2 linked regions of the Homo sapiens genome follow. The protein of the gene in region 1 purifies or fractionates together with the protein of each later gene. This does not show direct contact. Each region holds a gene or a part of one and is shown on either strand. Other genes may lie near its edges. The genes, in order: VPS33B and FARP1.

What was found.
Region 2: the proteins of VPS33B (region 1) and FARP1 fractionate together in Homo sapiens (co-fractionation; one large-scale study listed by BioGRID). This does not show direct contact.

Annotation. Positions count from the first base shown.
Region 1 is NC_000015.10:90,998,509-91,002,323, reverse strand, and holds the end of VPS33B (vacuolar protein sorting-associated protein 33B), read left to right. Parts: intron 1-141; coding exon 142-274; intron 275-861; coding exon 862-935; intron 936-1,732; coding exon 1,733-1,834; intron 1,835-2,348; coding exon 2,349-2,424; intron 2,425-2,530; coding exon 2,531-2,647; intron 2,648-3,269; coding exon 3,270-3,349; 3' UTR 3,350-3,651; downstream 3,652-3,815. UniProt on the Homo sapiens protein: May play a role in vesicle-mediated protein trafficking to lysosomal compartments and in membrane docking/fusion reactions of late endosomes/lysosomes.
Region 2 is NC_000013.11:98,145,826-98,149,640, reverse strand, and holds part of FARP1 (FERM, ARHGEF and pleckstrin domain-containing protein 1), read right to left. Parts: intron 1-3,815. UniProt on the Homo sapiens protein: Functions as a guanine nucleotide exchange factor for RAC1. May play a role in semaphorin signaling.

The sequences.
Region 1 (3,815 bases):
GTGAAAATTTATCTCAACAAAGTGTGAGCTCCTTCACACTGCAGCAGAGGCTTCATAGTCCTTCTGCTCAACTCTGTAGTACCTGACAGTACTAGATGCTCTTTGGACACTCAGTAAATAGTCTAATTGCATCTTCTTCAGAGCTATGGCCCTGAGCACCTGCTAACCTTCTCCAATCTGCGAAGAGCTGGGCTCCTAACGGAGCAGGCCCCCGGGGACACCCTCACAGCCGTGGAGAGTAAAGTGAGCAAGCTGGTGACCGACAAGGCTGCAGGTAAGCAGGGAGCACAAGTGACCCCTGCTCCAGCTGTTGTCCTGACTTCTCTCAACACGCAGCATGCTGGGAGGGACAGAATGAATTGGAGAAGGTGGACTGATTCCTTCCTATTAATGTCATTACTATTATTACTACTACTTCTGCTAGTAAGAGCAGTTTCCACATAGTAAACACTTACCATGTGCTGAGCCCTTTAGTTTCTCATTTAATCTCACAAAGACTGTGAGATAAATTTTCTCATCCTCATTTTATGATGAAACTGAGGCTTAGAGAATTAAGTGATTTGTCCAAGGTCCCTTAGTTAGTAAGTTAGGTCGGTTTAACTCCCAAAGCACATACCAATAAACTCGGGTTACCCTGTGGATTGCATTTAGTAGAGAGCTGGTACCCCGTAGGAGGGGGAAGACTGTGGGTGGGGAGAAGGGTGGGGAGTATATCTTGATTAGTTCCAGGGAATTATAGTTGAACAGCTTCCGAGAGTTTTTGGATGTGATTGGTGCTGTCGTGTCCTGAATGGTGTTATCTGTGGCAGTGTCATGAATCCATAGACCTTAGGTGAAACCTGACACAGATTTCTTCCCCAGGAAAGATTACTGATGCCTTCAGTTCTCTGGCCAAGAGGAGCAATTTTCGTGCCATCAGCAAAAAGCTGAATTTGGTATGTGGAACAGGGATGGTTAGGGGAGACAGTGGGTTCATTCCATTGTGGAGTACTTTTCTTTTTTTTTTTTTTTTTTGAGATGGAATCTTGCTCTGTTGCCCAGGCTGGAGTGCAGTGGCACAATCTCAGCTCACTGCAACCTCTGCCTCCCAGGTTCAAGTGATTCTCCTGCCTCAGCCTCCCAAGGGATTACAGGCATGTGCCACCACGCCCAGCTAATTTTTGTATTTTTAGTAGAGACAAGGTTTCCCCATGTTGGCCAGGCTGGTCTTGAACTTCTGACCTCAGGTGATCCGCCCACCTCGGCCTCCCAAAGTGCTGGGATTACAGGCATGAGCCACTGCGCCCAGCCCATTGTGGAGTACTTTGAATCCACAAAAACCTTTTTGTCATTTCATGTGTATAAAGATTCTTTTGTTTGGTAGTCTTATAGCATGGTAGATTCATTCATTTAATCAACATGTAACAAGCACCTGCCAATGCCAGAGAATATTCTAAGTGCTGCTTCAGTGACAACCATATCCTGTGTCACTTAAGGGTAGGGAAAGGAGAAGCCATCCCTCCAGCCCCTTTACATTATTCAATAATGGCGCATGGGAACTCATTCCAGAGAACTGGCAGTTACTGAACAAAAACTGCCATCTTCCGTTATGGATTCTCTTTTCAGGGCTATTGCTGGTTCTCCCTTTAGTTGAAATAAGAATTGTTCCTTGGGCCATGCCACTTTATCTGACCCTTTAAAGGGTTAGGGAGCTGAGCTGTCACTTGCCTAATGAAGTCCCTTTGTCTTACAGATCCCACGTGTGGACGGCGAGTATGATCTGAAAGTGCCCCGAGACATGGCTTACGTCTTCGGTGGTGCTTATGTGCCCCTGAGCTGCCGAATCATTGAGCAGGTGAGAGCATGTAATTCTTGCTCCCATTCATATTTCATTCTCTCTGCTTTCTCTTGGTCCCTGGCGTGTCTCAATGTTTTTTTTTTTTTATTTGAGATGGAGTCTTGCTCTGTCACCCAGGCTGGAGTGCGGTGGCACGATCTTGGCTCACTGCAACCTCCACCTCCCAGATTCAAGTGATTCTCCTGCCTCAGCTTCCGAAGTAGCTGGGACTACAGGCATGTGCCACTGCACCCAGCTAATTTTTGTATTTTTAGTAGAGATGGGGTTTCATATAGACAGGGCCAACTATATGTTGACCAGGCTGGTCTCGAACTCCTGACCTCAGGTGATCCCCCCGCCTCAAACTCCTAAAGTGTTGGAATTACAGGCGTGAGCCACCACACCTGGCCCTGTCTCAACTTTTTGCTACTTGAGTAATGAGCAAGAAATGTGACAGTCTGGCTGCTGTGCCCTTCCTTTCCTAAGCCTGATACTGTCTGTAGCCTTAAAAACAGTGCTTACACCTTCCCAGGTGCTAGAGCGGCGAAGCTGGCAGGGCCTTGATGAGGTGGTACGGCTGCTCAACTGCAGTGACTTTGCATTCACAGGTATGTGGCATTAACAGTGGGGTAGGCTGGCAGTGAGAGGTGGGCTGGATGCACCACTCAGGACTAGCATGTCAGGGAAGGGCTGAATCTGGTCTGATCCTCACAGATATGACTAAGGAAGACAAGGCTTCCAGTGAGTCCCTGCGCCTCATCTTGGTGGTGTTCTTGGGTGGTTGTACATTCTCTGAGATCTCAGCCCTCCGGTTCCTGGGCAGAGAGAAAGGTAAGAGAGAGCAGAAAGGTGAGAATTGGCCTGCATTGTATCTGGGTAACAAAGTGTCAGCTGGGCACGGTGGTTCATACCTGTAATCTCAGCACTTTGGGAGGCGGAGGCGGGCAGATCACCTGAGGTCAGGAGTTAGAGCCTAGCCTGACCAACATGGTGAAACCCCATCTCTACGAAAAATACAAAAATTAGCCAGGCATGGTGGCCGGTGCCTGTAATGCTAACTACTCGGGAGGCTGAGGCAGGAGAATTGCTTGAACCCGGGAGGTGGAGGTTGCAGTGAGCTGAGATTGCACCATTGCACTCCAGCCTGGGCAACAATAGCAAAACTCCATCTCAAGAGAAAAAAAAAAAACACGCAAAGTGTCCTGCACAGGAATATTTTTCTCCTGGCCTCAGAATACAACTTGCCATAGCCTTAACTCTGGGCTGCCACAGCAGGGAGCCCAGTTATACCAGTCATAGAAAGCAGTGGTGCCCAAGAGCATGGCACTCACGTCTCTGTCTATAAACTGGTGCTGTGATCCCGTGGGGACTGTGGAACTGGAGAGGCTCTATGGGTTGCCGTTGGGGCCTAAGATCTGTGCTGTCTCTTCTGCTGCTGCATTTGACTCCTTAGGCTACAGGTTCATTTTCCTGACGACAGCAGTCACAAACAGCGCTCGCCTTATGGAGGCCATGAGTGAGGTGAAAGCCTGATGTTTTTCCCGGCCAGTGTTGACATCTTCCCTGAACACATTCCTCAGTGAGATGCAGGCATCTGGCACCCAGCTGCTATAACCAAGTGTCCACCAACTACCTGCTAAGAGCCGGGAGCATGGAACGTGTTGGGATTTAGAGAACATTATCTGAGAAAAGAGTTCACTTCCTGCTCCCAGGATATTTCTCTTTTCTGTTTATGAAGTACAACCCATGCTGCTAAGATGCGAGCAGGAAGAGGCATCCTTTGCTAAATCCTGTTTGAATGTCATTGTAAATAAAGCCTCTGCTCTCAGATGTAATACGTTGGTCGTTCTGGACACGCACTTCCATCTTTATTAGTGAAAGCCCATTGGAGCTTGCTACAGGGGCTTCCTGTGCTTCTTGGCCTGGACTTTGTAGTGGCTCCAGGCCTGGTCTGGTTCTTCCCTGTAAAAATCACTCTACCACTCTGTACCTGAGTTTC
Region 2 (3,815 bases), on another chromosome or scaffold:
ACCACAGTGAGATATCACTACATAGCCACTGGAATGGCTAAAAGGAAAGACTGTTTCAAGTGTTGATCAAGATTGGAGTAACTAGAAGTCTCATACATCACTGATGGTAACATAAAATGGTGCCAACGCTTTCTTACAAATAGCTTATTATAAAGTTAGGCACACACTTAAAGACCCAGGAGGAAAAATAAAAACCTATCTCTACACAAAGATTTGTTCACAAATGTTCACAGCAGCTGTATTCATGATAGCCAACACTGAAAACAACTTGAATGGCCAAAGGGGAGTGGATACGCAAGTCATAGCATATCCAGCCACGGAAATACTGCTGAGCAACAGAAAATAAACTAATAAAGAGGATGGGAAAGACAGTAGCAAGGGAGCAGGGAAGAGGAACAGAAGAGAGGGAGAGGAGAAGAGGGAAGAAGAGAGAGAGGAATAAAACTAAAGGAGAGCCAGGCATGGCAGTTCATGCCAGTAATCCCAGCACTTTGGGAGGCCGAGGCAGGAGGATCACTTGAGCCCAGCAGTTCAAGACTAGCCTGGGCAACATGGCAAAACCCCATCTCTAGTAAAAATACAAAAAATGAGCCAAGTGTGGTGGTGCTTGCCTGTAGTTCCAGCTACTTGGGAGGCCGACGTGAGAGGATCACTTGAGCCCAGGAAGTTGAGGCTGCAGTGAGCCGAGATCATGCCACCGCACTCCAGCCTGGGCAATGGGAGTGAGAACCTGACTCAAAAAAAAAAAAGTAAAAGAGAGAAGAAATACCTAGACATGTCATAGCCAGACTGCAGAACACCAAAGCATCTTAAAAGTAGCCAGAGAGAAAAGGCAGACTAGTTACAAATAATTAGACAGCAACAGCAATGGGACCAGAACACAGCTGATTAATACAGGAACAATACAGAATTGCACACCCAGATAAACTTACCATTCAAGAACAAAGGTATCTAAGACATGCAGAAACTGAAGTTACCACCAACAGATGCTAACAGAATTTCTAGAAGATGTGTCTCAGGAAGAAGGAAAATGTATCCCAGAAGCAAGCTTCAAAGTACAAAAAGGAATGGTGAGCACATTAAATTTACAGACAAGTACCATATAAAACAATTAGAATGTCAAATTTGGCGCAGGTTAAGAAATGAGAAGGCTATATAAAAGAACAGATCCCAAAATGCTAAGGTAGGAGTCAGTAACAGGTGGCAGGATTTCAAGTTTGTTTTATTTTCTTCTTCATGCTTTTATTGTCTTGTGTTTTCTTGAAACGGAGTTTCACTTTTGTTGCCCAGGCTGGAGTACAATGGCGTAATCTCAGCTCACCACAACCTCCGCCTCCCGGGTTCCAGCGATTCTCCTGCCTCAGCCTCCCGAGTAGCTGGGATTACAGTCACGCGCCACCACGCCTGGCTAATTTTGTATTTTTAGTAGAGACGGGGTTTCTCCATGTTGGTCAGGCTGGTCTTGAACTCCTGACCTCAGATGATTCGCCCGCCTTGGCCTCCCTAAGTGCTGGGGTTACAGGCGTGAGCCACCGCACCTTATTGTCTTTTTTTTTGAAAAGGAACCTCTGTCTTTTTACAATCTGACTTAGCTTTAAGGATTCAATTGCTAAATTAGAATGAAATGAAAACAAAATCAAATATCAAACTGCCAGAACTGCAATCTATCAATTCTAATAACAAGTTTCCTTTAAAAACCCTAAAGACTAATTTGAAGGGATGGTAAAAACTGGATTTATTATTCATTCAACAAGGATTTACCAGACTGGGCAACATAGCGGTGAGACTCTCTAAGAAAAATTTTTTTAAAGAAAAAATTAGCTGGGCGTGATGGCATGTGTCTGTAGTCACAGCTACTCGGGAGACTGAGATGAAAGGATTGCTTGAGCCCAAGAGGTCAAGGCTGCAATGAGCCATGATCACCACTGCACTCCAGCCTCGAGTTTTTTTCAAAAAGAAAACAGAACACAATAATTTACCAAGGGTTTGCTATATTCAGATACTATACTAGATCCTGAATGAACAAGAACAAAAACTGAAAGTCATCATAATACTGGATTTTTAAGTCTTCTAATTGATAATAAATTTATGCAAAGCATTTCGTCAAAAGTCTGCACATAAAGTGAAGTTACTCTTGTGGTCAGAGGTTATTATCATAATTGAGAGTTAAAGGCAGTCTAGTGTGGCCTGAGGCTCTTCTTTTTTTTAATGTGTGAACAAATATGACAGTTTTACATATGAAATTCATTCAGTGTAAATGATGAATTCCCACATTAATTGCAAGTCTTGAAGTTCATAATTTCCATCCCACATTAAACTAAGAAAACTTAAAATCTGAGTTAACAGTTTGCAGGCAGCACTGAGCATGCCTCAGTTTCAGTCTCGCCGGATTAGTATCAAAAGCTTCGAGCATGATATTTTAGTAATGTATCCATTATCCACTTTTGCTCAAAGTATCCACTTGGCCAAACATTTTTAACTAATTCAAACCAGGGCAAGGGCATCCTATAAAAAGTTTTGCCAGTTTTAAATACACGTTTTCTGGGGGCTTCTTGATTGAAAACAAAGGCTGCATTTGGCAGAACAGGACTGGAGAAATCAGTATTTCAAGTAATTTGAATGAAAACCGTTTGGCTCTGATCTTCCTGGCCATGTGGAAGTGGTTAAGGAGGTAACAGCCTACCTAAGTTGCCATGGGTGAAACAGAGAGAAAGGACTGTGACCCAGTACCACCACAGAATAAACTCTGACACTAAAAGACAAGAAAAGAAGTTGATCCGCTGCTTCCCATTCAATAGCCAGGCTTGGAGAGGCTCCTTTCAATCAAAAGCACCAAACAACAGGAGAGAGACTGCCACGAGAGCCTAAAACCCCACAGCCTCCCTTCCCAGGCAAACGGTAACCAATACAGGGAATGCCTGTCCTTCCAAAGTAGAAAGACTTTAGCACCTGCATTACAGGACTATACCTGCCCCTCTTATCTGTAGCACCTTCAGCTGGTGAGGAAAGTGCATTTCTCAAAAACACTAAGCAGTTATCTGCAATAAGCAAGGCCAGTTACAAAGGGCTTCTTTAAAATGTCCAGTCCACCATGCTATCAAAACATCAGGCAAGGCCAGGCTCTGTGACTCACGCCTGTAATCCCAGCACTTTGAGAGGCCGAAGCGGGCAAATCACCTGAGGTCAGGAGTTCAAGACCAGCCTGACCAACATGGAGAAACCCCGTCTCTACTAAAAACAGAAAATTAGTTGGGCATGGCGGCAAATGCCTGTAATCCCAGCTACTGGGGAGGCTGAGGCAGGAGAATCGCTTGAACCTGGGAGGCAGAGGTTTCAGTGAGCCGAGATTGCGCCATTGCACTCCAGCCTGGGAAACAAGAGCAAAACTCCATCTCAAAAAAAAAAATCAGGCAAGTACAGTACTTACAAATCCACAGAATTTCTCTTATCCTCTGGGAAAATCACAATGCCATTTTTCCTAAGCATATTCTGCCTGCAGAAACCAGCCTTTTATCCTTTCTCTAGTATTCTCTAATCCCGTCCAGGATGAAAAGAGTTGTTTTTTTCTGATGTTTATCACAAGCATCCTCCTCATAAATATATACAATTTTCCAAATGAATTAAGCTCTTAGGTGTTCAATAAATTAAATGAGTATAAGCTTCACTGTTTAAAAAAAACTAACCCTTTCAATGCTATCTTATTTGTATCTTTAACCAAAAAACAAAACAAAACAATTTCCTTGGGCAGTTCCTTTTTTCTCTTTTTTTTTTTTTTTTTTGAGACAGAGTCTCACTCTGTTGCCCAGGCTGGAGTG